4 separate regions of the Homo sapiens genome follow, and regions 2, 3 and 4 are each reported to be linked to region 1. Evidence: microRNA targets listed by miRTarBase, many of them from high-throughput screens and not tested one by one. Region 1 holds a microRNA gene; each other region holds the end of a gene's coding sequence.
The links. The annotated mature microRNA hsa-miR-3155a reads CCAGGCUCUGCAGUGGGAACU and lies in region 1 at 2,282-2,302, shown strand. An mRNA with a match to its seed (bases 2 to 7 or 8) in the 3' UTR can be bound and repressed. Matches are read on the target gene's strand: a 7mer-m8 pairs with bases 2 to 8, a 7mer-A1 pairs with bases 2 to 7 and ends in A, and an 8mer does both.

Region 2: the mRNA of EFHC1 is a reported target of hsa-miR-3155a. Seed matches in the 3' UTR shown: 7mer-m8 at 5,317-5,323 and 7mer-m8 at 4,799-4,805.
Region 3: the mRNA of MGAT5 is a reported target of hsa-miR-3155a. Seed matches in the 3' UTR shown: 8mer at 6,420-6,427, 7mer-m8 at 6,312-6,318, 7mer-m8 at 4,535-4,541 and 7mer-m8 at 4,295-4,301.
Region 4: the mRNA of SS18L1 is a reported target of hsa-miR-3155a. Seed matches in the 3' UTR shown: 7mer-A1 at 2,369-2,375.

Annotation. Positions count from the first base shown.
Region 1 is chr10:6,149,966-6,157,082 of GRCh38, forward strand. MIR3155A (microRNA 3155a) reads left to right here and starts at 2,231; the gene lies at 2,231-2,312. It overlaps MIR3155B (microRNA 3155b), which reads right to left and starts at 2,297; the gene lies at 2,242-2,297. It also overlaps a transcript of PFKFB3 not described here. RefSeq lists an enhancer at 1,601-1,650.
Region 2 is chr6:52,491,379-52,498,495 of GRCh38, reverse strand. EFHC1 (EF-hand domain containing 1) reads right to left here. Exons shown (of 11, transcript NM_018100.4): 11 at 1,298-6,226. The coding sequence ends at 6,155. TRAM2 (translocation associated membrane protein 2) reads left to right here. Exons shown (of 11, transcript NM_012288.4): 11 at 1-1,088. Among named protein-coding and RNA genes, the nearest start is that of EFHC1, 75 kb to the right of the region's middle. RefSeq lists a silencer at 481-682.
Region 3 is chr2:134,448,258-134,455,374 of GRCh38, reverse strand. MGAT5 (alpha-1,6-mannosylglycoprotein 6-beta-N-acetylglucosaminyltransferase) reads right to left here. Exons shown (of 16, transcript NM_002410.5): 16 at 754-6,726. The coding sequence ends at 6,528. Among named protein-coding and RNA genes, the nearest start is that of MGAT5, 200 kb to the right of the region's middle.
Region 4 is chr20:62,178,332-62,185,448 of GRCh38, forward strand. It overlaps SS18L1 (SS18L1 subunit of BAF chromatin remodeling complex), which reads left to right. Exons shown (of 11, transcript NM_198935.3): 11 at 851-4,183. The coding sequence ends at 877. MTG2 (mitochondrial ribosome associated GTPase 2) reads left to right here and starts at 4,697. Exons shown (of 7, transcript NM_015666.4): 1 at 4,697-4,726. RefSeq lists silencers at 4,326-4,515, 4,555-4,739, 4,746-4,915.

The DNA.
Region 1 (7,117 bases):
TATCCATTCATCTGTTGTTGGACACCTAGGTTGATTCCATGTCTTGGCCGTTGTGAATAGCGCTGCAATAAACTTGGGGTTTGGATGTCTCTTCACGCCTTTTAAGTTCATGCCTTTTCTGTCACCTTTTCCATTGATTCTATGCACATAGCACCTCTTGCAGGCATATCTTGTCCCATAACCAGACCGGAACACTCATTTGTTCTCAGAATGCTTTCTGCATGGTAACTTGGAGAGCTATTTGAGTTACGGTCTATACCTCATGCTTATATTGGACCTGGTGGTAGCAAGTGTTTCATAAATTCTTCTACTTGGTTAATCTGTCATTTTCTTTTGGAATGAGTAGTTGCAGAGCCACATTAAGATCCTTATAGGCCAGGCACGGTGGCTCATGCCTGTAACCCAGCACGTTGGACGGCTGAGTAAGGTCAGAGGATTACTTCAGACCAGGCGTTCGAGACCAGCCTGACCAACATGGTGAAACCCTGTCTCTACTAAAAATACAAAAATTAACTGGGCGTGGTGGTGGGCGCCTGTAATCCCAGCTACTCAGGAGACTGAGGCACGAGAATCACTTGAACCTAGGAGGCGGAGGTTGTGGTGAGCTGAAATCGTGGCCACTGCACTCCAGCCGGGGCGACAGAGCGAGACTGTCTCAAAAATAACAATAATAATAAATCCTTATAAACCCTAAATGCTGAAAGATGATGGCATTTCCCCATGCGTAATTTAAAATAAAGACAATACCCAGGCTGTGCGTGGTGGCTCACGCCTGTAATCCCAGCTCTTCGGGAGGCCGAGGCGAGTGGATCACTTGACGTCAGGAGTTTGAGACCAGCCTGACCAACATGGTGAAACCCCGTCTCTACTAAAAGTATGAACAATTAGCCAGGTATGGTGGCGGGCACCTGTAATTTCAGCTATTCCGGAGGCTGAGGCAGGAGAACCGCTTGAACCTGGGGGGGCGGAGATTGCAGTGAGCCAAGATCCTGCCACTGCACCCTGGCCTGGGCGACAGAGCCAAACTCAGTCTCAGAACAACAACAACAAAAAGCAAAAATTGCCTATCATTCATGACGGCAGGGGAAGAGTTCCAAGATTTCCAGCTGGGCGGTTGAGACGGTGGACCAGGACAGCAGGGAGACGGACACAGGGAGGGAGCCCCAGTCTGTGGAACACCATCCCACTTACCGTAGCTCCCCACTGGCAGTGTGTATGAGTCTTGGTGGTATCTTGTGTGCGGGTCTGAGCTAGGGGGCGTGGCCCCAGGAGCATCCAAGGTTCTGGTTGGGGCAGCCACAAGGTGTCTGAAGAGCAGCGGGGTTTGGTCGTCCTGGCACTTCCGCAAGCAGCCTTTCCAGCTGTAGCTCCGGAAGGTGCTCTGACATGACAGTTCAAAAACACACTTCCCCCTGGCCTGGGCTTCAACACTCACTTGTCAGAAAGTGAGGTCCTGTATGCCCCAGTCCTCGGCCAGAGAAGCAAGAAGCAGATTTCCCAGAGGCTGTGGCCCCTTGCATTGGTGAGGACACTGGGGTGCTACCTCTGTTTGAGGGGTGACTGACAACTGTGCTTTCTTAGGGTGGAGTTGGTCTGCTGTCGTGACTGTCTGCTTGAGATACTGACCCCTGGCGATCAGATTCTGGAAGTCCTCTCCTGAGGCTGCTGAAGTCGTCCCAGAGGCTTGTCCAGCCACAGCAGTGGAGAAAGATCCAATCAGGCAGGCAGGGGCAAACGGGAAGTCGGGAGGGTACCCTCCCCGCTCCCTGAGAAGTGTGGACTTTCAAAAGGAAGTGAGAAAGAGGAAGGTCTTGCCTAGGCATGGGGTAGACCTGTTTGATGCAGGCGGACTTCAGGGAAAGCTGGTCCTCAGTGCCACAGTGCTGTGGCTGTCGGGCGGCAGGCACTGGCTCACAGCCGTGGTGGGGACGCCTTGTTTCTCGGAAGGACAGAACCGCCCTCCTGCAGCTCCTGTTCCTGGCTTCACATTAGAATTAACTGGGGAGCTAAAAAAAAAAAAAACCTGATGCCCCAGAAATTCTGATTTGATAGTTTCTGCCTTGATGCCTAGACAAAAAATGTCCTGAAACAATACTTCACCTCAGACAATACTGTACATGCTGATGTTTTCTAGTCTGTTCCATTTCATTAAGAAAGATTCTGGTCTTATTCCAGTAAATTGATTTCAAGGCCACTAATGGGTGGTGACCCACACTTTTGAGATGCCTGTTCCGGGCATCACCTCCCACTGCAGAGCCTGGGGAGCCGGACAGCTCCCTTCCCAGGCTCTGCAGTGGGAACTGATGCCTGGAACAGTTCCTGCAGCCGGTCTCCAGTGTGATTCAGGTCCTGCGGCAAGTTCTAGGTGGTCCAAGTGAGGCAGAAGCCTTGCTGGAGGCTTTACCCGTCCACACTGCTGTGGAGCCTCTGAGCCTCCATGGAGGCTCCCCAAGCCAGGCAGCAGGGGAGGAAGCGTCTGGTAGGAGGGTGGAAGGCATCACGATAACTAGCCACCTGCAAGGGCTAAATCTCTCTGGGACGTTTGCACGAGGAACATTCCGAACCCATGAATAGAGGAGGGCTGCGGATCTGGTAGCTGAGGAAATTCAGTAGAAAAGCGAGAAATGTATGCCAGGTGCAGTGGCACACACCTGCAGCCCCAGCTACTTGGGAGGCTGAGGTGGGAGGATTGCTTGAGCCCAGGAGAGTGAGACCAGCCTGGGCAACATAGTGAGATCCTGTCCCTACAAATAAAAAATTAAAAAATTAGCTAGGTGTGGAGGCATGTGCCTGTAGTGCCAGCTACTTGGGAGGCTGAGGTGGGAGGATTGCCTGAGCCTGGGAAGTTGAGGCTGCAGTGAGCCTTGATCGTACCGCTGCACTCCAGCCCGGGCAACAGAAAGAGACCTTGTCTTTAAAAAAAGGAAGAAGAGGCTGGGCACGGTGGCTCACGCCTGTAATCCCAGCACTTTGGGAGGCTGAGGTGGGCAGATCACCTGAGCTCAGAAGTTCGAGACCAGCTTGATCAACATGGTGAAACCCCATCTCTACTAAAAATACAAAAAAATTAGCTGTGCATGGTGGTGGGTGTCTGTAATCCCAGCTACTCGGGAGGCTAAGGCAGGAGAATTGCTTGAACTGGAAGGCATTGAGCCAAGATCATGCCACTGCACTCCAGCCTGGGAGACACAGCGAGACTCTGTCTCAGAAAAAAGAAAGAAAGAAAGAAAGAAAGAAATAAGAACAGAGAAAAGCAAGAAATGTAATTGAAAGGCCGATGGGCTGCCCTGTCCTGCGGGTGCCTACCCTCATTTATGATGCAACTGAAGTCACTTCCATAAGCTCTTCGGTCCTTTCAGCAGTGCCCAGTAGGCCAGGGGCGGATGTAAGTGCAGAGGCTGCGGCAGTGAACAAAACAGACAAACCTCGGCCATGGAGCTTACATGTGAATGGGGTAAGCCTGTGTGGCTTGGTCCTTGGTAGATGCTTTGAGTGGCTGGTAGGAGGTCATGGTGACCTCCCTGGGTTGGTGAGCAGGTGAACGCTGCATGTGTCAATGGATGTGAATGCCAAGAAGAAAATAACTCAGGAAAGAGGAGGGGGAGGGGCTGGGCGAGGTGGCTCACACCTCTAATCCCAGCATTTTGGGAGGCCGAGGCAGGCGGATCAGTTGGGGTCAGGAGTTCGAGACCAGCCTGTACAACATGGTGAAACCCCTGTCTCTACTGAAAATACAAAAATTAGCTGGGTGTGGAGGCAGGTGCCTGTAATCCCAGCTACTCAGGAGGCTGAGGCAGGAGAATTGCTTGAACCTGGGAGGTGAGGTTGCAGTGAGCTGAGATCGCGCCACTGCACGCCAGCCTGGGAGACAGAGCGAGACTCCATCTAAAAAAAAAAAGAGAGGGGAGAGGGAGTCAGGGACCGGGAGGGAGGATTGTGGTTGCACACAGGATGGTCACTCCAGGGGACATTTGGACCAAGACTGAGGGGAGTGAGACAGCCTGAGGGGAGTGAGGCAGCAGACAGTACCATTAGCTCAGGAGCATGTCCAAATAGGGAAGTGCGAGGCAAAGGTCCTGTGGCCAGAGCGGCTGAGTGCAGGAGGAACCTGCGGGCCAGCACCGCTTCTGCAGGGTGAGAGGGTGGAAGCCAGGTGGACACAGGCTTAGGAAGGGAGTGGCGGCTCAGCACGTCCTCATCTCCCATGGTAGGGCCTTGTTTGGCCTCTCAGCTGGAGACAGGAAGGCCTGGGAGGGTTTTGGTGGAGGTGTGGGCTGAATTAATTTTTTTTTTTTTTTGAGGCAGGGTCCCACTCTGTTGGCCAGGCTGGAGTGCAGTGGCGCGTTCTCGGCTCACTGCAACCTCTGCCTCTCGAGTTCAAGCGATCCTCCTGCCTCAGCCTCCAGGGCAGCTGGGATTACAGGTGCATGCTACCGCGTCCAGCTAATTTTTTTGTATTTTTAGTAGAGACGGAATTTCACCACGTTGGTCAGGCTGGTCTTGAACTCCTGAGTTCAAGTGATTTGCCCGCCTCGGCCTTCCAAAGTGCTGGGATCATAGGCGCGAGCCACCGCGCCTGGTGGGCTGAATTAACGTGACACCATAAAACGTCTCCGCCACGGGTGGCTACTATCCTGAGAGCAGACTGTGGGGTGGCGGGGGAGGCAGGAGACCAGGTGGGAGTCTCTGGGCCTGCTGCAGGTGGCTGCGATCAGGGTGGTGTTGGGGGTGGCTGGATTCTGAATATATTTAGGAGGCAGAGGCGGCGGGATTTGATGGATTTGCTGTGGGGTGAGAGAGAGTGAATCATGGGTAGCTCCCCCAGCTGCCTTCTGTCTGATCTGGGGAGACGCTGGGAGCCAGGTGGCCGAGGCGGTCGAGGCCTGGGTTGTAGTGAGCTGCGGGGAGCCCGCACTGCCACAGCAGCTGCACCTCCTCTAGGCCCTGTCCTTGGTAGAGGCTGTGAGTGGCCCGTAGGAGGTCATGGTGACCTCCATGAGCAGCTCTGTTTCTGTCTGTGGTTCAAAAGGATGGGACCCAGTAAGCAGCCTTCCAGAAAAGTCCACTGTGCCCCAGGTCAGTCATCAGACAGAGCCATTTCAAGAAGCAAATGACTTGGACAATGGGGGCTGATGCTTACTGCCACTGGCAAAGAATTCCGAAAGGTTCTGAGGGGTTTACTCCGGGCACTGAGCATGCTCTCTTCCAAGCTGGGAGAAAAGCACTTACGAGTTTTTTTCTTTTTTTTTTTTTTTGAGACGGAGTCCCGCTCTGTCGCCCAGGCTGGAGGGCAGTGGCGCGATCTCGGCTCACTGCAAGCTCCGCCTCCCGGGTTCATGCCATTCTCCTGCCTCAGCCTCCCGAGTAGCTGAGACCACAGGCGCCCACCACCACGCCCGGCTAATTTTTTTTGTATTTTTCATAGAGACGGGGTTTCACCATGTTAGCCAGGATGGTCTCGATCTCCTGACCTCGTGATCCGCCCGTCTCAGCCTCCCAAAGTGCTGGGATTACAGGCGTGAGCCACCGCACCTGGCCGAGTTTTTTCACTTTCCCAGGGTTTCCGTGTAAATACTACACAATTACCAACCAAATGTCTGTCCTTCCTCCGTTTCCATAAATGTCAAGGGCTCCACTGTAAGGGGGAAGCATGGACCCCCACTCCAGGAAGACTTCCTGGACAGACCCCACCCAGGCACCTGCTGACCGGGTTCACTTCCAAATCAGGATACTGGCTTGTCCTGGTTTGTCCATATTTCCCCGGTTTCAACCTCGACAGTCAGGTCACCCCTACCTCCAGCTAACCCTCGTGCCACAGGCTTGTTGAAAGTTAGATGGCCTCATTTTAGAAAAACAGATTTAAAAACCTCATTCGTGTTTGAACATGGAAAGAAAGAATAAGAAAGTAGGCTTTATGGCCCTGGGCTACTGGCTTGAAACTTTGGAAGATATTTTTCTTTCTTAAAATGTTTTTATGTTTAGGAGATATGTTCTACATGCACATAGCGAACATCCTACCCAATAGGCAGTTTTTCAACCCTCACCCCCGCTGCCATCCTCCCAACTTTTGGAGTCTCCAATGTCTATTATTCCATCCTGTGTGTCTGTGTGTTACCCATTGTTTAGCTCCCAAAGAAGAGATATTATATATATGTACATATATATGTGTGTGTGTGTGTGTGTGTGTGTGTGTGTGTGTATTTTTAGAGGCAGGGTTGTGATCTGTCTCCCAGGCTGGAGTGCAGTGGCACGATCATGGCTCACTGCAACCTCCACCTCCCAGGCTCAAGCAATCCTCTTGCTTCAGCATCCTGAGTAGCTGGGACCGCAGGTGTGCGCCACCACAGTCTGCTTTTTTTTTCAAACTTTTTGTGGAGACAAAGTCTCCTTGTGTTGCCCAGGCTGGTGTCCAACTCGTGGGCTCAAATGATCCTCCCACCTTGGCCTCCCAAAGTGCTGGGATTATAGGCATGTGTCATCACGTCCAGCCTCCAAAGAAGAGCAAATTCACTTTAAATTAAATTAATTAATTAATTAATTACTTTTTATTTATCTTTTTTGAGATGGAGTCTCGCTCTGCGGCCCAGGCTGATGTGCAGTGGCACAATCTCGGCTCACTGCAACCTCTGCCTCCCAGATTTTAAGTGATTCTCCTGCCTCAGCCTCCCACCACCACCATGCCCGGCTAATTTTTGTATTTTTAGTAGAGATGGGGTTTCGCCATGTTGGCCAGGCTGGTCTCGAATCCCTGACCTCGTGATCCGCCCACCTTGGCCTCCCAAAGTGCTGGGATTAGAGTTGTGAGCCACTGTGCCTGGCCCAAATTCTCTTTTTAAAGTATCTGGGCTGGGCGTGGTGACTCACGCCTGTAATCCCAGCACTTTGGGAGGCTGAGGCAGGTGGATCACCTGAGGACAGGAGTTCAAGGCCAGCCTGGGCAACATGGCAAACCCTCTTCTCTACTAAAAATACAAAAATTAGCTGGGCGTGGTGGCAGGCACCTGTCATCCCAGCTACTTGGGAGGCTGAGGCAGGAGAATCGCTTGATCCTAAGAAGTAGAGGTTGCAGTGAGCCGAGATGGTGCCACTGCACTCCAGCCTGGGCCACAGAGCGAGA
Region 2 (7,117 bases), not on the chromosome of region 1:
AAGGCCCACTTGCCGTAACCTCTTTTGGTCTATTTTGCTTCCCATTCAGCCCAAAGTTTATATGATAAAGGTGTTTACTTTTACTTCCCAGTCTCCAAGTGCTAACACATAAACACATACATGTCTGACTGTTGCAGAACTGTTCGAGCTCCTAATTCAGTGTTACCTTGTTTTAGTCGCAGCAACCCTCTCCCCTACCCCTTGCCCGCCCACGTTTTTCTCACTCTTCCGGGTTGTGCAATAACTCTCCCAGCCAGTGGTCCTTTCCACAGCCTTTCTGTCCCTTAAAACACCTGCAACTGGGGGAGAAATGGGACCCATGGGAGGGGGAGTCGTCATCCCTTACACAAGAAATAGCCACTTTCCTTTTGTTGTCATTCTTGTGATCCTGGGTGGGTTTCTGTGGCACTCTTTTAGAACATGTAGCATCATCTTAGAGGTCTATTTTTAAAAAATGTGTTGAAGAGGAAAAAACCATTCTCACGATGGGGCTTAAGTCATTGTCCAGGAATAAGATTGGCGTGGTGCCCATGACATCACCGTCACTCTGCCTAAAAGCACTCTAGAGCTACTTGTTCACGTGGAGAGGAAGGATATTTTGCGAAGCAACAGCCGCAGGTGGAGAGCCCTGTTCACCTGATAGGGTCTAGCTGTGACAGTAAATATAATACCGCTGTTTCCTTGGGTACAGATTTGAGTGTTCATGTGATGAGACTGTAAACCTCATTTTTCGGTTCCTCTGTTTAAAAAAACATCTGAAGGATGAACTAAGGCTGCTGGTGCCCTGAGCAACTGATAATGCAAATGTGGACAAAGTGTCTGTTTTCTACTCTAGCCTGTTCATATGGACCAAATTTCAACAAGGAACTCAAGGAAAATTTGTACCTGCCGTATTTATGCTTTCATGTAAAAAAGGGTTGGGGGGAGGGGTGTCTTTTTGCTTTTGGTGAACTTTTTTTCAAAATCATTTTTCCACTGTTTCTGTCTGGTTTTAAAACAAATTACAGTTTTGTATGGATTTTTTAAATGTACATTTTGGAACAAATGATCAAATATTTTCTGAAATAACAATAAAAGGCAGAAAATTATCAGAATTGTCTCATAATTATTTCCTTGACGTGCTTTTATACAGTGATGCTTTTAACGTGGATGTTTACGTTTGCTTAAAGGAGTTTGCAATGAATTTTAGCCCTCATGTCTATTATTTTTCACTATATTAGTCATTTCTTATATATTTTGACCCGTATTTGTCCATTGTGATATGAATTAGGGAATTAAGGATGGAGAGTCAGTTATGTCAAGTGCTGGATAGCAATAAGCATCATTTTTATTTGACTCTTTAATAGTAAAGTGGAAAAGAGGTTTTCTTAACATGGGGTTTGTGGGTAGGAAGCTCCAGAAACAAGCACATCATCCTTGATGCCTACTATACTATGATGTTATTTAGCTTGGAGGAAATGGGGTTTCGTTTGTGTAAAGGCCAACAAATATGTTGGTGCTGACTAGAAGACATCCAAGTATTAGTAATAGTGGGGATTGCTGGTGTCACTTACATGGCTGCTGTTGGCTGTAGCTGCTTGCTGTGTTTACCAGAACCATCTTTCTTTGGAAAAAGATCTCAAAAGATGAGTGCAGTTACAGGTGGCAGTTAGTCAAGGACACCCATGGGGTGTGAGAAAGAGGAAATGTTTGCTTGAGGTGAAGGTGAGTGGTTCTGATGCATGGCAAGCTTCATTGTAGAGTTGGGTCCTGCTCTGCCATGAGAAGCTAGGTGAACTCAAGCAGTTAACCCTTCCGAGTCTTTTTGTGCATCTGTGTCAAAAGGGTTTCATGTTTTGTGGGGAGTCATGGTGAGAGATTTAGAGATACTGAATGCTAAGTTCATGGTACATATAAAGCACTCATATTGGCTTTTTAAAATGAACTTATGTGCCAGCAGGATACTCAGGAGTCACTTAACCAAGTGGATTCTCTGGACAACATTTAGAGACGTCTTCTCTACCTATGTGTCCCAAATACCCTCAAAGCCTATAGATATGGATTTGATACACCTTAATTGGATGGTATTTTCAAGGCCCCCTGATGGTGCAGACAAGGTACAGGCCCAGGTTTCTGAGTAGTGGCTAACTCACAGCCCATCTTTACCCGCAAGGCAGATTTTTATTAGTCCCAAAGCCGTAAGCACTATAAGCAGTCTTAGTCAAATGCTTCAGTTAGACCTGATAGCTTCAGCTACCAGTGCTAATCTTAATAATTCTCATTCTCTCTTTGTGTGTGTGTGTGTGTGGGTGTGTGTGTGTATTAGAATCTTTCAACTCCCTGGTGGCCAGTTTGAAGTGATGATCATTTCTGCTTCCTACAATATTGCTTGCTACAGGGTAATGCTCAGCTCCCTTCCACCACCTGAACCTGACACTCCAGATGCATGCCAGCTATGACTGTAGCATAAGGTAATTAGTGACATCTAATGGCTGCACTGCCATTCAGGATTTTAGTAGAAAAAGTGATTTGCTCTGACGTTTGTGGCTCCTATACTTGCTGCTTTGTATAAACAGGTGAGCAGCGAGTGTTTGGACACCACAGAAATGGCCTGCTGGCTTTGGTCTTTCATGAAATCTCTTTTATACCTTGTGTTGGTGCTGTCAGATCTCAGCTTCTCAGTCTTAAGTAAACTTAAAAGGAGATGCAAGGCAAGAAGTGGACAGCAAACTTAAGGAGTGTATGTGGACAGTGCCAACTTTATTGAAGACAGTTCCCTCTGAGACTACAGGCCTAGCTACTCAGAAGGCTGAGGCAGGAGGATTGCATGAGCCCAGGAGTTTGAGGCTGCAGTGAGCTATGGTCACACCACCGCATTCCAGTCTGGCAACAGAGTAAGACCCTGTCTCTAAAAAACAAACACAAAAACAAAACAAAACAGCCAAAAGCAGGCTAGAGGATGCTAAATGAGACTTTCCTAAATCTCCATTTTGGCTGAGACCCAAAGCTGAGGACAAAAATTGGCAAATATATCCATATGTTGCAGATTTGCTGCCGATCCATGAATGATTTGTTAAGGAGTAGCCCAAAGCTCCTCTACCACAGGAGGCAAGAGTGATGGAGAAAATATCAGAAAGTGCAAGCTTCTTGAAAGGGGCTGGAGTGCCTTGGGTCTGCAAGCTAAGTGAGGGTATACTTTAAAAGACTCAGGGTTTGACATGTGTCTGTCCCCTGGAGTTTGGAGAGCATAAGATTTGGGGTACCTGGTTCTCCCCTGAAACAGTCTAAAGGAAAGGGATTGAGCTGCCTAATTACACAGCCAAGAGAGCCATCTGGGTGAGAACATGGCGAGAGTGCACACCCTGGAAGGTGTGTCAGCCTGAAAGGGCCTCCTGGGAAGATCAGAAGGAGCCTTGGAGACCATACCATTAGAGCCGGGGTGATCAGGTACAGACTGGGTCCCGTCCATCTGAGAGTGGTGCACTGGGCAGTTTCCGGTTGGAAAGAGTTCTAAGAACTCACCAAAACGGGGCTCTGAGCAAAGGACATGGAATCAACCTAGGTGCCAATCAATGGTGGATTAGATTTTTTAAATGAAGTATATCTACACCATGGAATACTACGCAGCCATAAAAAATGAAATCATGTATTCTGCAGCAACATGGATGCAGCTGGAGGCCATTATCCTAAAGTGAATTGATGCAGGAATAGGAAACCAAATATTGCATGTTCTTACTTCTAAGTGGGAGCTAAACATTGAATACACATAGACATAATGATGGGAACAATAGACACTGGGGACTACCAGAGTGGGAAGGGAAGGAGGGGGTATGTGTGGAAAAACTACTTACTGGGCACTATGCTCACTACCTGGGTGCAATATACTCATGTAACAAACCTGCACATGTACCCCCTGAATCCAAAAAGAGAGAAAAGGTGCTCTGGGAGAAAGAGTCAGCCTTTCGGCACATGTCACTCAGACCTGGCCCCACATTACGACATTACTAGCCACAGAAATAAGACTTTGCCCTTTTTCTCTGGTTTCTACCCGCTTAACCTTTCCCAGAGCCTACATGGGCTAGAAACAGCAGCATGGCTGAATAGGAACAAAGGGAGCAGAAGACAGAAAGAAGGGAGTAAGAAGAAACCACTATCATCACCCCAGTATACACACACTCTTTACCACAGGCTTCTAAGCCTGGGGGAAGGACTGAGCTGGGCCAAGTAGGATAGAGCTTGGTAATTTTTAAGCTGAAAAAACTTCTAAAATACAGATAGTCCCCAACTTTCAATGGTCCAACTTATTTGCCTACTTTACAATGGGCTTATCAGGGTTATTAAATGTGTTTTCAACTTGTGATATTTTTTACTTACGTGAGTTTATTGAGACATAGCCCCATAAGTAGAGGAGCATCTGTACTTGAAAGAGATACTGTTTTAAATAGTTATGAGCGACTGAGGGTAAAACAAAACAAAACATGGGTTATTCCCAAGATAATAACCTGGAACAGAAAAGGAATCAACATAATACATTCACAGCCCTTTCAATAAGCTGGTTACAAGTGGCTGAGCTCGTTAGGGAAGGAAACACCAAGGGAAGTTCCCTAGAAGTTCTGAGAGGGCAAAGCAGTCTGAATTCTGTGTAACTCTATCCTCATTCATACCACATTTTGGGTGGCTTCGGGGAATTTGAGATAGCATGTTTAAAGATGAACTTAGTGGCTGACTTCAACCAAAGAGAAGCCCTGTTTGTAAAAAGCCAGTCAGAGCTCACCAGAGAATAGTAACTGCAACTAGTCTTTCCTTCCTCTCTCAAGGCCAGGCTCTCTAAAAGCAGCATTTTTCTAACCTTTTTTTTTTTGAGATGGAGTCTTGCTCTGTCACCCAGGCTGGATGGAGTGCAGTGGCGTGGTCTTGGCTCACTGCAACCTCTGCCTCCAGGGTTCAAGTGATTCTCCCATTTAAGCCTCCCGAGTGGCTGGGACTACAGGCACACGCCACCACACCTGGCTAATTTTTCTATTTTTAGTAGAGATGTGTGCACATATATGTATATACATAATATATATACACATATACATACTATATGTATACATATAAGCGTGTGTGTGTATGAATGTGTACATATAAAATATATATATATATATATATGTAGAGAGAGAGAAAGAGAGAGTTATAAGAAATTGCTCACACAATTATGAAGGCTTACAAGTCCCAAGATCTGCAGGGTAAATTGGCAAGCTGGAGACCCAGGAGAGCTAAAGGTATAATTCCAGTCTGAATCCAAAGGCCTATGACTTAGGAGAGCTGATGGTTTAGGTCCAGTCTGAAGGTCAGCAGGCTCCAGACCAACAGCTGATGTTTCCATTTGTGTCTGAAGGCAAGAAAAGGCTGATGTTCCAATTTGAAGCCAGTCAGGCAGGAGGAATTCTCTTACCTGGGGAAAGGTCAGCCTTTTTATTCTACTCATGTCTTCAAATGATTGGAGGAGGCCCACCCACATTAGGGAGGACTATCTGTTTTACTTAGTCTTCTGATTCAAATGTTTATCTCATCGAAAAATACCTTCAGAGAAACCCCCAGAATAATGAAATATCTGAGGCTGGGCACAGTGGCTCATGCCTATAATCCCAGCACTTTTGGAGGCTGAGGTGGGAGAATTTCTGGAGCTCATGAGTTTGAGACAAGTTCAGGCAACCTAGCAAGACCTTGTCTCTACAAAATAATTTTAAAAATTAGCTGGGCATGGTGGCTTGAGCCTGTTGTCCCAGCTACTGGGGAGGTTGAAGTGGGAGGATCACTTGAGCCCAGGAGTCTGAGGCTTCATAGAACTAGGATAGTGCCACCACACTCCAGCCTGTATGACAGAGTGAGATCCCATCTCTAAAAAAATTTATTTTTTTAAAAAGAAAGAAAGGAAATATTTGGGCCCCCTGTGGCCAAGTCAATTTGACACACAAAATTAGACATTGCTATACCCCTATCACCCTAAATAAGGCACCAATCTTAGATCCTATTAGATCCAATTTAGTTTCGACTTCAGTAGGAGTGAAAGAAGAACCAAAACAGAAATAAAACTTCAGGAACCCTGTAAATGCCTCTATGAAGAGTGTAAGGTGTATTTCAAAGCATAGTTCCAGTATCAAAAATTGTCTTGCATTTTCTCATCAGCAGGTCAGTTTGAGAAAGCACGAACAAAGTTATAGTAGTTAATTTTGCCTTCTCCATGAGAGCACATCCTGATTAACTGCAGAGAGAGCAAAGAGAATAGGTGAGACAGATCTGCAGGGCTTCCGTCAGCTCAACTGCAGAGTGCGCTTATGCATAATGATCCCGAGCCTTTGTAAATCAGTTCAGAATTTTTGTATCCTCAAGTTGATTCTGAAATGATCCTGTGAACCTGGCAGGTAGGACAGACATTATCCCCATCTTACACTTAATGAAACCAAAGCTGGATGGAGTAAATGACCTTCCCTGTTGAAGGCCGAAAGAATGAGCGTCATGATCAACTCAGTATACCACTGGAGGCTCTATGAGTAAACAGTAAACTGTTTCTCATGAAAGCAGGATGTTGGCAAACTGACAAACTGCGTCTGCTGCCCAGAAGGAACGCTGAAGGCAGTCACGACCCAGGCACAAGTGTTTCTTGTGATTAGACACATCTGAAGCCTGTTAGCAATAATGTGAACCTGTGATCAATTAATCCCTGCTCTTTCTACCCAATAAATATGAAGGGCTGTAGCAGCTCGGGCGGTTGCCTTTGCTCACTAGAAGCAGGGAGCTCTCTTCTTTCCCTTCCTTTAAAATAGTTACTTTTGTTTTAAGTTTTCATTTCTGCTTTCATCTTCCTTCGTTAACTCTCGTAATGACGGTCTCAAGTAGTAACAGTAGTAATTGTCGTAGAGATGTCTCAAGTAACCGTGGCAGTCTGCCACATTTCCCAAGATTTCAGAACTAACATCCATATTTATAAAAGCACTTTTAGTTGTTTTTATATTCAAATAAAAGACTGTCCACTCAGCTCATGAGGAGTAAGACTTTTTAAATAGCAGGCTCTTGCTACCACAGCCTAACGGAAGGGTCTGGTTATGCCACTGCTCAACCTGTGTCCCTTAAAACTCGACTGTGACTGGTAACA
Region 3 (7,117 bases), not on the chromosome of region 1:
AAAGAAAAAAAAGATTGGGAAGTGTAGGAGCCTGTAGGTTTCTCTTCTGCTGGTTTTCTCGTTGTGTCTAATATACATCATGGAAGCTCAGGGAGGGGAAGTGACACTGGTAGCGTTGCCCAAATGTAGGCACTCGGCTTTCCCTTGTGTTCTAACATGCTCTGTGAACTGTGTGGGGTGTCCATTTTGGGCCGTAGCCAGGAGGCCCGCCAGCTTCAGAGAGGCCATGCAGATGAGGGCCAGTGTCATCTGCAGACAAACTGTTGGGTGGGGCATGGACTAACCTTCCCTGTCTCCAGGGCATTTGCCTAACCAGCTGCTCATGGCTCACTGCTTCCTGGCTCAAAAGCTGCTCTTGAAAGGGAGAAATCTATTCTAGGTCCAATGGTCGCTGGTGCTCAGCCCCTTATAGAGCTATTTTTATTAGCTCATTCTTAAAGATTTTTCTCAAAATCTAGCAGTTCACTTTCTAATTGAATTTCCTTCTAGGGGAAGGCAGCACAAGGAGAGTGCGCTAACATGAGTAGTGGTGGATGTGATATAAGGGAAGGAATACACAGTAGTAAAACCTTCCCCTCTCCACTCCTTAAGTATACCTTCCTGTCTTCCTACCAGCCGTTTCAACAGTGTGCTGCAAACCGTGAAATACAGCTGGGGGAAGCTGTGTGCTGGGGACGCGCCTAGACAGCAGCTCAGCTTTGTTCTGGAGGTGACCCTGCATGCACCCGCCCCCCCAAAAATCACTTCCACCTGTCACACAAGAAAAGTTTATTGAAAAATAAAGTTCTCCCTAGTTTTCTCTACAACAGTGGAAAACAAAGCAGTGCTCTCTATGCCAGGACAGTACATTTGGACGGCGACACCTTGTTTGCAGAATCCTGCATTACTTAACCCCCGAAGTGAATCACACAAAATGGCTGTAACCAGGATCTGTTTGAAGACACAGATGCAAACGGCCATTAGCTTAAAGACGTCAAGGTTGTGACAGCAACTACAGTGGAAGGGACGTCACCATCTCCTTTGGCATCAACTATTATGCTATTAATACTTGGGTAGGACAATGAGCAAAATGCTTCCCAAGTTCGCTCCCTCTCAGCTTTGGCAGATGTGAAGCTGCTCTGAGGTTCCTGACACGCTGTCCTGAGAGGCGTGTAGACCTCCAGCACCACAGATCCTTTGAGCACCACCCCGTCCCCGCCATCCTCCATCAACAGTGGCCCTGCCCACCACATAAGCACAGGGTTCTCCAGCCGTGGGGTCAGGGTGGCATTGAGGGAGTGTCTTAAGGCTCCACAAAATCTGGGCTACAGAGATGCTTTGCAGATGGGAAATTCCAGTCACTGCATCCACAGGACGAGACTGCTGATTTGGCGGAACAGAATCCAAAGGAATTTGACGAAGTCACCAAACTCCAGCAAATTCCACACCTGCAATCTATCCAGAGTTGTGCCAAGACAGGGCAGGAGATAAGGAGATAGATAAAACTTTGAATCCATCAGGGAAGTAAGAGGCTAAATCCTCTCCCCCAAAACAAAAAGCAAACCGATATTTAGGTGATTTGGGAAAACATTCAGTCATGAGCAGCCTCTAGGAGCTGTTCTGAGAGGCCAAAATCCCTGCCCCATTGCCCCCAGCTGGCAGGGTGGGGTTGGTTTTCTCCAGGAGGCGGCCAGGGAATAACCTTTAATTTGATGGAAACATGCAGAACTAACCAGTCTGGGAGTCTGATCCCTGAGGACAGGAGGGGCCACCCCAGCCTGTAGGGGCCGGCAAAGGGACCTGCCTGGGGAATGTGTAAGTTCAATTGGTCATTCCTTCTCCCTTAACGCAGAAAAGCCTCTATTATTGCATTCAAAGGAATACTGTTAACTTTGACTCAAGGGGTGCAGTCTGCCAGAGAACCCATTTTAATTTCTAGCTCAAAAATGTTCCTTGAGGAAAACCCTTGGAATGTTCTGAAAGACGTCAGTGGGGTAAGGTCCAGTATGTGGCTAGCCAAAGGTCACCTTTACCTTTTCCAGCTGGAGTTCATAAATTCTTGCAGCCTTGTTTCCTTGGGGGCTGAAGTCTGGCATATTTTCAAACCAGTGCATTCAAGAATACAGTAAGATCCCAACCAGCAGGGTAGGCCGAGAACTGGGCTACTCTAAACCAGTAATTCCTACAACATTCAATCAACTTGGAATCATGTTTTCATGTAGGTATTATTTTTGAATCAACAGGAAGGGAATGAGCTCAGCTCTATTTCTCAAGTTTTACGAAACACTAATAACAATATTTAACATTTACTAGGGCTTACTATGTGCCAAGCACTGTGCTAAACACTGAATCCTCACAAAACCCTAAGTGCTAAGAAAGCTAGGGTAATTTTTTTCTGCATTCAAGACTCTACAGCTAATTTGGTCTTTTGCTATAAAAACTTGGTCTCCCACTTTTTGTTGAAGCGAACAAGAATCACAGGAACTCACCCTCAGCTTCACGAAACTCCCAGCTTCCTAAATGAGCATGAATCTATTTATGTCCATCCGTCTACTCACATGAAGATGCTCTGCAGCTCCACAGGGATGGATGGGATTAGAATAAAGCCAATATGGAAATTAAAATACTTTTAAATAAATAAAATAATCCAGGCTTGGGATAGTAACACATACAACAGAGCCTGTCGTTAACAAAATAGACTTTTCTTTTTAAATCAAGAATTTTTGGCCAGAGGTGAGGGTGGCAATGTCTAATATACACAAGCTAGGTAAACCACCTTGGAGAAATGGGGTGGCCACCGTGGTCTGCCCTAAAAGGCACACACCTACCTACAGACATACAGTTTCAGTCCAACACATCATACTGATGTCAACCCTGTCAGTGAGCTGCACTGGGCTCCACTCCCAAAGGGGAAGCTCATTATTCACTTTTATTAAATCTTGCATTCACTAAAGAAACAAAAAAGGGGTGCACGTTCTTTCCCTTTCATGATGCTAAAGTATTTCTTCTCCAAGCAGGGCCCTGAACTCCTTGGATGCACCCATTCACATGATTCTGCCTCAGCCACACCTCAGCAAGTGCGTGGGTGGCAGGGAACACAGGCTGGTTGACACGTTGGCAACCAGCAGTCCCAAGGTAGACCCAAAGGTATGGCAGAATCCAGCCCTTTCTTGAGGTTCTCAAGGCTTCACACCCTCCTCTGTGGGTGGAAGTGCACATGCATACACGCTATGGCCTGGCGGGGGGGTTATAGGGAGCGTCTGGTGTCCAGCTTCAACAGCTACAGTGGCTCAAGAACATGTCCTGTCTCTTAGCTGGAGGAGTCTGCTATTGCCCTTCAACAGCATCCGGATTCCAAAAACCCCAAAGAAAAACGAAAAGGCACATCAAGGAAACAAATATCACTAAAGAAACTGACTAATATCTCCAAACGCACAGCAAACACACAAAAAAGCAAACTGTAATGAGCAGTGACACAAACCCAGTCCAAACAAAAATGAAAAGCATCTCCATTTATACATGTGCAAATCAAACTGCATACACAAAATAAATGCGGTGTTTACCAGCATTCAAAGAAGTCTTTTTACTCCTCAAAGTATCTACCTTTCAATGGAAAGCTTTCTCTTTTAGTAAATTAGATGAATGTTTTCCCTCAAGTTTTTTAAGAGCTTAGGATCACAATGGGGAAAATAATCCAAAAAAACAGGCAAGATATTATAGCGGGGAAAAACATTAATCATAACTTAGGATTTCTCTCCCCATGGAACTGTTATCAGCTATAAATCGGTTTAGGATTCTATCAAGATCAGCAATGGCAAAACCTCCGCAGGCTTCCAGCCCACACAGGGGCACCTTCCTCTCCTCTTCCATGCAGGGCAGTTGGAAGCCCCCTCCCCAGTTTCCTCTCCAGGATCACTGACTAGACCTGGGCCAAGTCTGAGGAGGCCTGGGAGCCAGTACACATTCAGGGGTCACTGACTCTTCAGATAATGCCCTAAACAACTGGAGTGTGGGCTTGTTTGCTCCAAGAGCAGCTGCCCTGTCAGTGGAACTCCGGCGCACTTCCACTCAATACTGGACTGGGGGGGATGAAAGAGGGATTTTTAAATGGCAGAAAAGTGTTCTTCTGGGCTGTCTGGCCCGGGCAGGGCGGGTTGTGACTTGGAAAAGAAGGGGAAGGTAGGGAGGCCTTGAACTTAGGGACAGCCAGCAAATGATCCTTGCAGCTTTTGGAACACAAGGCAGGGCTAAGGTTACCTTTCAGCTTCCTTGCTTAAGTAGCAGTGGCTAAGTGGGTTAAACTTTGCTCGGCCTGCAGGCTCCCCCTGTTGGTCAGATACTTGCATTGACATCCTCAGTGTTCAATGCTCCTGGAAGAGCCCAGGAGAGGGCGGCACTGGCCCAGGGATTGCAGGTCAGGGAACTCTAGCAAATTCCCACACCCTAGGGTACAGCCAAGAGGCCCATTCACAAGGAAAAAGCTCTTCCTTACAGCAAGGATGCCAGTCATCTGCCCTCCTACTGCAGGAAACTGCCCTTGCTTAAAAGAAATGCACAGGCTCATACACACACACACACACACACACACACACACACACACACACACACACACTCACTCACCAAGGTTTCCTTTGGACTTCTGCCCTTCTTCCTAGGCCCAAGCAGAGGCTATTCTCAGCCAGGTCTGGAGGCGCCCCTGTGATGATGCTCAGGGCAGAGGCCTCCCCATGGTACTCTACCTGGCAGATGTGCTTGGGGGCCACCTAAGGAGTGGAGGAGGCCCCGGGTGCCCCCCACCCTCCTCTTAGACTGGAGATACAATTGAGACGCACTGAGCAGGGATCTCAGTGGGCCTAAGAAAAAAGGCTGGCTGCACATTTGTGTAGCAATTGAGAAAGAAGCAGAATGTAACTTCCCAGACTTAAAGGCCCCACACTAACTCTAGTCCCCATGAAGCGGAATTCTTCCTTTCCCTCACATTCTGAAAGCTACCAGCCATTACGCCTTGCCCATCAGTTCTGCCCAGCGGAGGCTCCACTGGGCCGCCCTCTGTTAGCAGGAAGGGTGCTTGGAAGCCCCGGCACAGAGCACATCATTGAGCGACTGAGGCGCCCAGCAGAGGCCAAGTGGAGGACGCCAACCGCTCACATTAGGCAGAAGGGGTCTCACTTGCATCAGCATGGAGATGTCAGGGGCTTTTCAGAAACTTACAAACTTGTACAGAGCATGGCAGCAATGATTCAGTGGGGTGGGAACTTATACAAAGGCAGAGCATGGGGGGGTCCAGGGTTTGGAAGGTGGGGTCCAGTGTGTCTGACCAGGCCAACCTGATGACTGATTACTCAACAAGTCAGAGTGATCCTGCCTGAAGGAAAAGCCAGCACCAGATTCCCACCTTTGCGAGCTACACCCTCAGGTGAGTAGCCAGGACAGGGCACTGCATTCATCCTGAGCTGCCCCCACTCCCCCAGCAGACATCAAGAGCCCCCTTCCCTGGACTTTGGTGCCATCAGAGGGGACACAACACAAGCCCACCTGTCAGGAGCCCAGCTCCGGTCGCGCCACAAATTCTTAAGGACCGACTTCACTCCTGTCCAAATCTTGGCTCAAAGATAATCCTCTCCAAGTCCATGAACAGCGTGAGTCTTTCATCTCTACTTTCCTCCTCATAGCGGGGCTGGAGGGAGGGTGAGTTTACCAGAAACTCCAAAATCCCTCAATCCTGTATTTCCTTCCCAAAGGGATTCTAAAAGAAATTACGGCCAAGGTATGTGTCTGGGCATGGGGACATGGAGGAAAGGGGCCTCATCTCCTTTTTCGTCCCTGGCTGGGCTCTCTGGACAACACAGGCACGTCCCCCTGACTGAGGCAGCCCATGCTCTAGGTGCCATCTATGACGATGCCCTGGGGAGTTTGGCTGTGCTTCCAAAGCAAAAGTTTCTTTTGTTCTGCTGCCATCTGTTTTGAGCTGCCAGGTCCCCATGGCTGTCCCTGAGCAGGCCACCAGCCCCACGGCACACGGTCTCTCTCCTGCACCCTGCCCAAAGCAGACAGAACAACAGTATAGTGAAGGTGGATGATTAACAGTGGAAATAAAAGAAGCCTGTGATCAATCCCTCCTCTCCCTCCCGCGGTCCCCTCCCTCCCACCCGAATAAATAAGTTAATGGGTTTAGGAATATTCCCATTCAGAGTTCTTTCCCATCAGCTCAATTCCTCCTGTTTTGTTTTAAAGGACTCTTGAGACTTTCTTTTGCCCTGGAGCAGCTGCAGTGACAGTCTTCCCACAGTTGCTCCTTGAGAAACAGAAATGATGTTGTGCCAGGGACAAGCCAGGCTCCTGGCCTGACATACGCTCTTGTTTTGTTTTGGTGAAGACTCCACTGGGTTGCTCGGAGTGCAGCAAGGGCAATGCCAATTCAGAACCTTCTACGAAAAAGTTCAGGCTCTTGCCAGAGTCCCTGCATGACTTCTGTCCCTGGCCCTGCCTGACGGGGCTGGGGCCACTGTCTTCCCCAGCAGCATGGTGCAGGGCTGAGCAGGTAGCTGCTATAGGCAGTCTTTGCAGAGAGCCACCTGGCCCTTGATGAAGTCCCGGCAGGGGCAGACCCTCTGGTGCCTGGGGTGGGCGCCTGCACAGCTGAAGAGCAGGAGGTCACCTTGAAACACACAGTGCTTATTCTTAGGGTCAAAGGAGGGCACCAGGATGTCCTTGGCCAGCTCTGAGCTTTGGCAGGTCACCTTGTACCTGAAGAGGAAGAGAAAGGCACAAGTGTTGGTGATGAAGGGACAGAGCCTTTCCTCGTCACTGGCCCTGTGAGCCCCCATCTTGAGGCATGGGGGGATGTTCAGTTGTCTTGTCCTACTTTAGAAATGAAATGGTGCCCACCCTCTTCGTCTGCAATCCTCCACCTCTAGGCATCTAGACTCAGGAAGGCATGTGTGCACCAGGGAGTGTGTGCAGGGGTGTGTGTTTGAGGCTGCCTAGTGAAGCTTTGTCTGCAATGGAGAAAAACTGGAAACAACCCAAATACTCACCAAGCAGGGAATGGCCAAATAAATCATGGCCCTTCTGTGCTTTTAGAGTTCTCTGCAGCTGTTGAAAAAGAATGAGGGAGAAGAGAGGAGCAGGAGAGTCA
Region 4 (7,117 bases), not on the chromosome of region 1:
TAGTAGAGATGGGGTTTCACCATGTTGGCCAGGCTGGTCTTGAACTCCTGACCTCAAATGATCCACCCACCTCGGCCTCCCAAAGTGCTGGGATTGCAGGCGTGAGCCACTGTGCCTGGCCGAGGCTAATTTTTTCTCTTTTTTTGTAGAGATGGGGTCTTGCTGTACTGCCCAGGCTGGTCTCAAACTCCTGGGCTCAAGCAGTCCTCCTGCCTCGGCCTCCCAAATTCAGATTTGTTTTTGAAACAGGGTCTCACCCAGACTAGAGTGCAGTGGTGCAATCACGGCTCACTGCAGCCTTGACCTCCTGGGCTCAAGCGATCCTCCCACCTCACCCTCCAAGTATCTGGGACTATTGGCACACGCCACCACACCCAGCTAATATTTGGATTTTTGTAGAGATGGAGTCTGGCCATGTTGCCCAGCCTGGGTCTTTAGATTTTTTTTTATAGATTGAAACCCATCACCCTGGTCGTCCCCGCTCCCATTTTCTTACTGTAGCAGGCTCGGGGGCAGATGGTGTTTGCATTGGCTCCCAGTGGGGCCAGCTTGGAGGAGAGCCTTCCTGCATAGCAGGCCCAGCATAAGGCTCTGATGCCAGGCCTGGCACAGGCCCGGCCGCAGCGATGCCAGTGTGTGACTGAACAAATGAACCTTTGGCCCTGTCTACGTTGTTAGCCCCAGGCTTGGCCAGTGGCTTCTGGAAAGTCGTTCGCTGCCCCGCAGAGATGTGAGCAGAGGTTGTTTGCTTGCTGTTGTCCCTCCTACCCCCTGTCCGGGCTGGGGTGGACGTCTGTCTTCCTTTCACTCATTACTATAGGGGTGTAATCTGTGTCTTGATCTCTTTTAGGGCCAGTATGGAAATTACCAGCAGTAAGGGACACACATTCTGGCTGGAGCCCTTGTGGTAGCGTGTTCATCCAGGGGCCGGATGGGCTGGCGGCAGCTCTGGTGAATTGTGACATGTTGGTTACCTGTTCGCCCAGTGCCACGTCTGCATGTGAAGCGTGCTCATTTCATGCTGGGTATGACGCCGAGCGCACACCACTGGCGTGAGACAGCGCTTGGTGGTGTGATACTTTTGGTGCTGTGTATAGTATTGTATGTCGGTACACGGAGAGGTATCCTTTTTTTGTCCCCCGCCCCCTTCTCAATGTTTCTAGCTAGCTTTGGGGGTCATTTTGTCATCAGAGCATTCTGTGCCCAGGGACAGGACAGATCTCGAGGACACCACAGTCCACCTGTTCCCGTCAACAGACGTTAGGTCTCATTTTCCTCCTCATGCAGTGTTGTAGTGTGGGTTGTCAACTTTTCTTTAACTGGCTACGCCACAGCTGGACACACATGCAGCCCCTGGAGGGCAGCCTCTTCCTGTGCCTCGATGGGGTGGGTGGGAGGGCATCTTCTGTGCGTTGGGTCAGTTTCTGTTACGTAACGAAAAGGATAAACATCTCCCACGGGAGAGGCCACAGATGGCCACTTCCAGAGCTTGCCCATTGCCTGTCTCTCGCCAATTCCGTTTATCCAAAAAGGTACATGTTTTTGTATTAAAAAGTAAACAGGGATCAGTGACTGTATTCCAAATAAATATGAATCCCTAAGGGCCGTGGACAAATTGCCTAACCCAGGGCCAGCGGTATTGCTGAAGGAAAGGGGCAGCTCTCTGGGAAGTGGGCCCTCAGAGATTACTCTGGCTTTGACCCTTGTTTAGCTGATGGTCATTTCTGGGATTGGAATATTTAATAAGCCCAATTCTAAGTTGATAGGTAATTTTAAATATTCAAACCAAATCTTCCCAACAGTTGGCAAGTTGTTTATTTTATATTATTTCTTCCAGGACCTACTTGCTCAGATCTCCAAGCAAGCATTTCTTTTCTTTTAGGGATGTCTGAAAGTCACATCCAGTTACATTACTGTGTTCTTTCTAATGAAAAGTAAAGGTTTTATATAGAGAAACTTGAGTAATTTTTACATTTCTAAGACATTAAATCCCATTTAAATTCTGTGTGAACATTAAAGACAGCACACTTGCAAAAGTATGGTCAAAGGAAAAAAATCCCACATTTCAATTAACAAGTAGCATGGACATTTGATCAACCTTTAGTTGGAATAATAATATTCATATTTGCTATGAATCCTTTTAAAAAAATCTTTGGATAAATGCTGACAGATTTCCAAGAACTACCAAGAAAATACAAGAGATATCCAATGCTTGATATATGAGGCCTAGTAATAACGATATTTCTCTTTAATTGATGTTTTGTTTTAAAAGTTAAAAGTAATTCTTGGCGTGGTGGTTCACGCCTGTAATCCCAGCACTTTGGGAGGCCGAAGCGGGCGGATCACCTGAGGTCGGGAGTTCGAGACCAGCCTGACCAACATGGAGAAACCCCGTCCCTACTAAAAATACAAAATTAGCCAGGTATGGTGGTGCATACCTGTAATCCCAGCTACTCGGGAACCTGAGGCAGGAGAATGGCTTGAACCCAGGAGACAGAGGTTGTGGTGGGGCAAGATCGCACCATTGCACCCGAGCCTAGGCAACAAGAGTGAAATTCCGTCTCAAAAAAATAAATAAATAAATAAATAAATAAGTTAAAATTAATTCTTTATCCAGAGTCGGGTGCTTTAGAATTTATAAGTCACTTATGTGTTTTGCTTGAATTAATTCTGACAGCCCCTATGAGGAAATCTGGAGGCAGGTAACAGTTCCCATTTTAGAGATGAAGAACTGAGGCACAGATTAAAGGACTTGCCTGTGTTGAATACCAGTCCTGTTCTAGGACATTCTCCCCTCTCCTAGGAGACGGATGTCACGCACAAATGGGGAGAGAAGTGTTTATTTTGTAGGCACTAAGGGTTTCTAAAACCCTTAACACTGGTAAGGGCTCAAAAATAAACGTATGTGTTCATATTCGATCACCGAAATGAGAGTTCTTAATTGCTAATTGACAAACGCGTTAGCAATTTCAGTTAGGGAGTCATCTCCCTTGATTGTGTTCTTTTCCTGTCAATTTTCATAGACCTAATTTGCAAACTCAATCGGGGACTAAAATTTCCCACTGAAAATGTTAAACATTTTAGATAACTGTGAAGATAGTTTATTTTTATTCCTTGCCAATCTGGGAATATGCCTTTTTTGTGTGTTTGTGTGTTTTTTTAAGTGCTGTATTAATAATACTTTCTGAAAGAAAAGGACACTTACCCCAAAACTTCAATCTGAAATGTCTTACATTAAGAATATCTTGAATGTTGTGTATATATTTTAAAAAGCACTTTGCAAAATAGTTTGTACATTTATTTCCTAATTTATACATGATTTTTGGTGTTAATATATTTAATGATTAATAACAGAATGTTTATTTAATGTGCTGTCCATTTTTATGTAATATTATGGGGAAAGTGATGCCAGCAGTTCCTTTTCATTATTCTATCTTCTGTCATATGAATGTTGAGCAAAGCTTAGGCCAACATGAATTGTTTGTGAAGTGTGGTTGATGGTGCTTTGTTTTTTTCTGACTACTTCTATGGAAGGCCAGTGAAGAAGCAAAGGAAGACATGAAAATTGACGCTCATTCTTCTTCCTATTGTTCCCTGACATCCAGCAAATTGTGAATTTGAAAAATGATGGCCAGTTTTCAGAAGTGCTGACAAATTCATATTGGTATGCAAAAGCTCATCACCCATTAAGGTTTGTTGTTGAATCAACAGTACTCAGCATATTAAAACAGTACATCAGAACTCATGCCAACAGTCTTTATGATGGGATTAAGGTGGACAAGATCTCCTAAGATCTGTGAATGGGATTAAGGTGGACAAGATCTCCTAAGATCTGAAAAGAAACCTTAATACGCTCATATGGTTGGAGTGTTAAGTGAACCTCTGATTTTGTCAGGGTTTTTCTACGTGTAGGCGTGAATAGGGGGCACCCCTTCAAAACTGTACAAAGAAGACGACTGTTTTCCATTTCCATTTAAACATTTTTAGCCACTTCATTTCTATTTATTGAACAGGTCAAATTTGTCTTGTTATTTGTGAGTACAGTACATTTAAAAAACATCCTTATCGGTTATTTTTTTTTCAGTCGGAGTTTGACGTATAAATTGTTTATGCTTTTGGTGTAATCTCTTAATAAACTGGTTCTTCAAAAATCATCCTATAAAGTGAGTTTTCATGAAGTTAACGGGATTTTGGTGTGATGTGTTTTGCAAATACTTATTACCGAGACCAGGTAGATCGTCACCTCGGCTCCCGGGCAGAGTTCGCGTGCGTCCGCACCGGATTCCCCGCGGCGGCAAGGCGAAGCCAGGGTAAGGGCGGTGGGGACGGCGCCCCGGGGCTGCCCTGCGGTCCCCACTGCCTGCTCTGCGTTGCCCCGTAGCCTCCTCGGGCAACGGCGGTGTCCTCGTCAGACCCGGGAGGTTCCGCAAACGCCGGAGGGGTCAGAGAAGCTGGGGGACCTTGGGCACCGGGTGGAACGGGCGGGGCGGCTGTCCTTGTGCTCGGGCAGCGAGGGCGCCGGCGAGAAGCGCGGCTGCAGCTGAGCGCTCCGCATCCCTCCTGCCGTTGCTCCTGCTTCCGCTACCAGGGACAAGGTCGCCTCTCGGTCCGTCGGCGTGTTTTCTGCACCTGCGCACTGGGCAAGCCTTGGGCTTCCGGAGCCAAAAGGCCCCGGAAGTGGTCGGCCGCTTGCGACGCTCCGGAAGTGACGTGCTTTCCCGAGCCGGTGAGTGCGGGAGCGGGGAGCGGGGAGCGTGGGCCTGGGGGGTGGTCGCGGCCCGGGCGCAAGGAGGGGCCTCGGCTTGGGCCGCGGGGTACCGGGGCGCTGGGAGCGGGAGAGGCCCCGGCCTAGGAGCTGAGAGGCCTGGAGGGCTGCCGGGCTGCGAACCCCGGCGGGACCGAGCGCTGCGGCCCTGGAGTAGCGAGCGCTCGGGCGGTGGGGAGCGGCGCCTTGCTCCCCGGTCCTGCCCCACTCTCTCCGCAGAACCGCGTTTTGGGGTCAGAAGTCTTGTCAGCCACCCCGGTGGTGCTCTGTCACGGGATGGGTGCCGTGTGTGAGTTCCGAGTCAAGTTGTTAGGAATTTGCCTTGATCCAGCGCTCTAAGTATTAAACATTTTAAAGTGATTATTGGCAGTATACAGTTGCACAAAACAACATAAATATATACACATTTGGATGATAAAACAACAATAAAGTTTTGTATTGTAAACGCGCCTCAGGGAGACGCATTTCCAGATAATTCACTGTCCGTGGCTGGCTTCTGCCCAGTGAGAGCGGGTTACCCGTTCTATTCCCATTTACGTTCTCGTAGCTGTGGATACCGAGGAACGGCGTTCACACAGACCTGTAGGTGGGAATTAGAGGGGTTGTTGGGCAGTGTCACTAGAGAAATACCTTTCTTTTGTAAAGGGGAGGACCCATTATAAAAGGGGGACGGGAAAGGAGAATTCAAATTGTTTTAAACGCAGGTTCGTCCTCAGGCAGTTCTGTTTTAGCAGAGAGAACGTAGCGAAACTTGGGCAGAAAATGGATTCCTTTGAAATTATCCTGGCCTTAGTCCCTTGGGAAGTCTGTGTAGGCGAACCTCAGTGAGAAGATTCCTGCCGTAAAATGCAGGTGTCAGCAGCATGCCAGGGAGGCCAGAGGATACTATGTGACTTTGGGCAAGTGACTGAACCTCTGTGAGTCTCAGCCTCCACTGCTTTAGATGGGCATAAAAAATGTAAAGTCAAGAATCAGGTTTCCGCTGGGCGCGGTGGCTCACGCCTGTAATCCCAGAACTTTGGGAGGCCAAGGCGGGCAGATCACGAGGTCAGGAGTTAAAGACCAGCCTGGCCAACATGGTGAAACCCCATCTCTACTAAAAATACAAAAAAGTAGCCGGGCGTGGTGGCAGGCGCCTGTAATCCCAGCTACTGGGGAGGCTGAGGCAGGAGAATCGCTTGAACCTGGGAGGTGGAGGTTGCAGTGAGCCGAGACCGCACCACTCTGCTCCAGCCTAGGCAACAGAGCGAGACTCTGTCTCAAAAACATACCCAAAAAAAAAAAATCAGGTTTCATGCTCACAGGAGGATTTGAGGAGGGTTTATAAAGGGACCGTTTGCAAAGGCAGAGTGCAGGTTAATGACAGTTGGTCCTTTAGCCTGGAACTGGTGGCAGTGGAGTTTCTACTCCTGGACTCCAAAGGATCAGGGAAGGCAGCAGTGATCGGGACAGGGAGAAGAGTCACTGGGGAGGGCTTCTTGGACTGGAGGTGTGAGCCTCAGTCTGAGTGGGCAGGGAGGTCCATGTCCCGGCCTCCTGCTCCTGCCTCCAGTCTCTGGTAGAGGGCCAGGTCCCAGTAGGTTTTCCTATGGGGCAAGCTCAGGCTCCTGACACACAGCACAGGGCAGGGTGGAAAGCTGGTCTGGAAAAGCAAATGGAAGATAGCTCGGCATGCAGTATTACCCCTCGCAGGGTATTATCGTTAGGAATACATTTAAAAGTGGATATATTGGTTGGGTGTGGTGGCTCGCGCCTGTAATCCCAGCACTTTGGGGGGCCGAGGCAGGTGGATTTCCTGAAGTCGGGAGTTCAAGACCAGCCTGGCCAACACGGTGAAACCCCGTCTCTATTAAAAATACAAAAATGAGCTGGGTGTGGTGGTGGGTGCATGTAATCCCAGGTACTCGGGAGGCTGAGGCGAGTGGATCACTTGAACCCATGAGGCGGAGGTTACAGTGAGCCAAGATCCCACCATTGCTCTCCAACCTGGGCTACAAGAGTGAAACTCTGCCTCAAATAAAAAAGAAAAAAAATGGCCAGGGCGTGGTGGCTGATGCTTGTAATCCCAGCAATTTGGGAGGCTGAGGTGGGCGGATCACGAGATCAGGAGTTCAAGACCAGCCTGGCCAACATGGTGAAACCCTGTCTCTACTAAAAATACAAAAATTAGCTGGGCGTGGTGGCATGCAGCTGTAATCCCAGCTACTCGGGAGGTTGAGGCAGGAGAATCCCTTGAACCCGGGAGGCAGAGGTTGCAGTGAGCTGAGATCATGCCACTGCACTCCAGCCTGGGCGACAGAGCGAGACTGTCTCCAAAAAAAATAAAAATAAAAAATAAAAAATAAAATATAT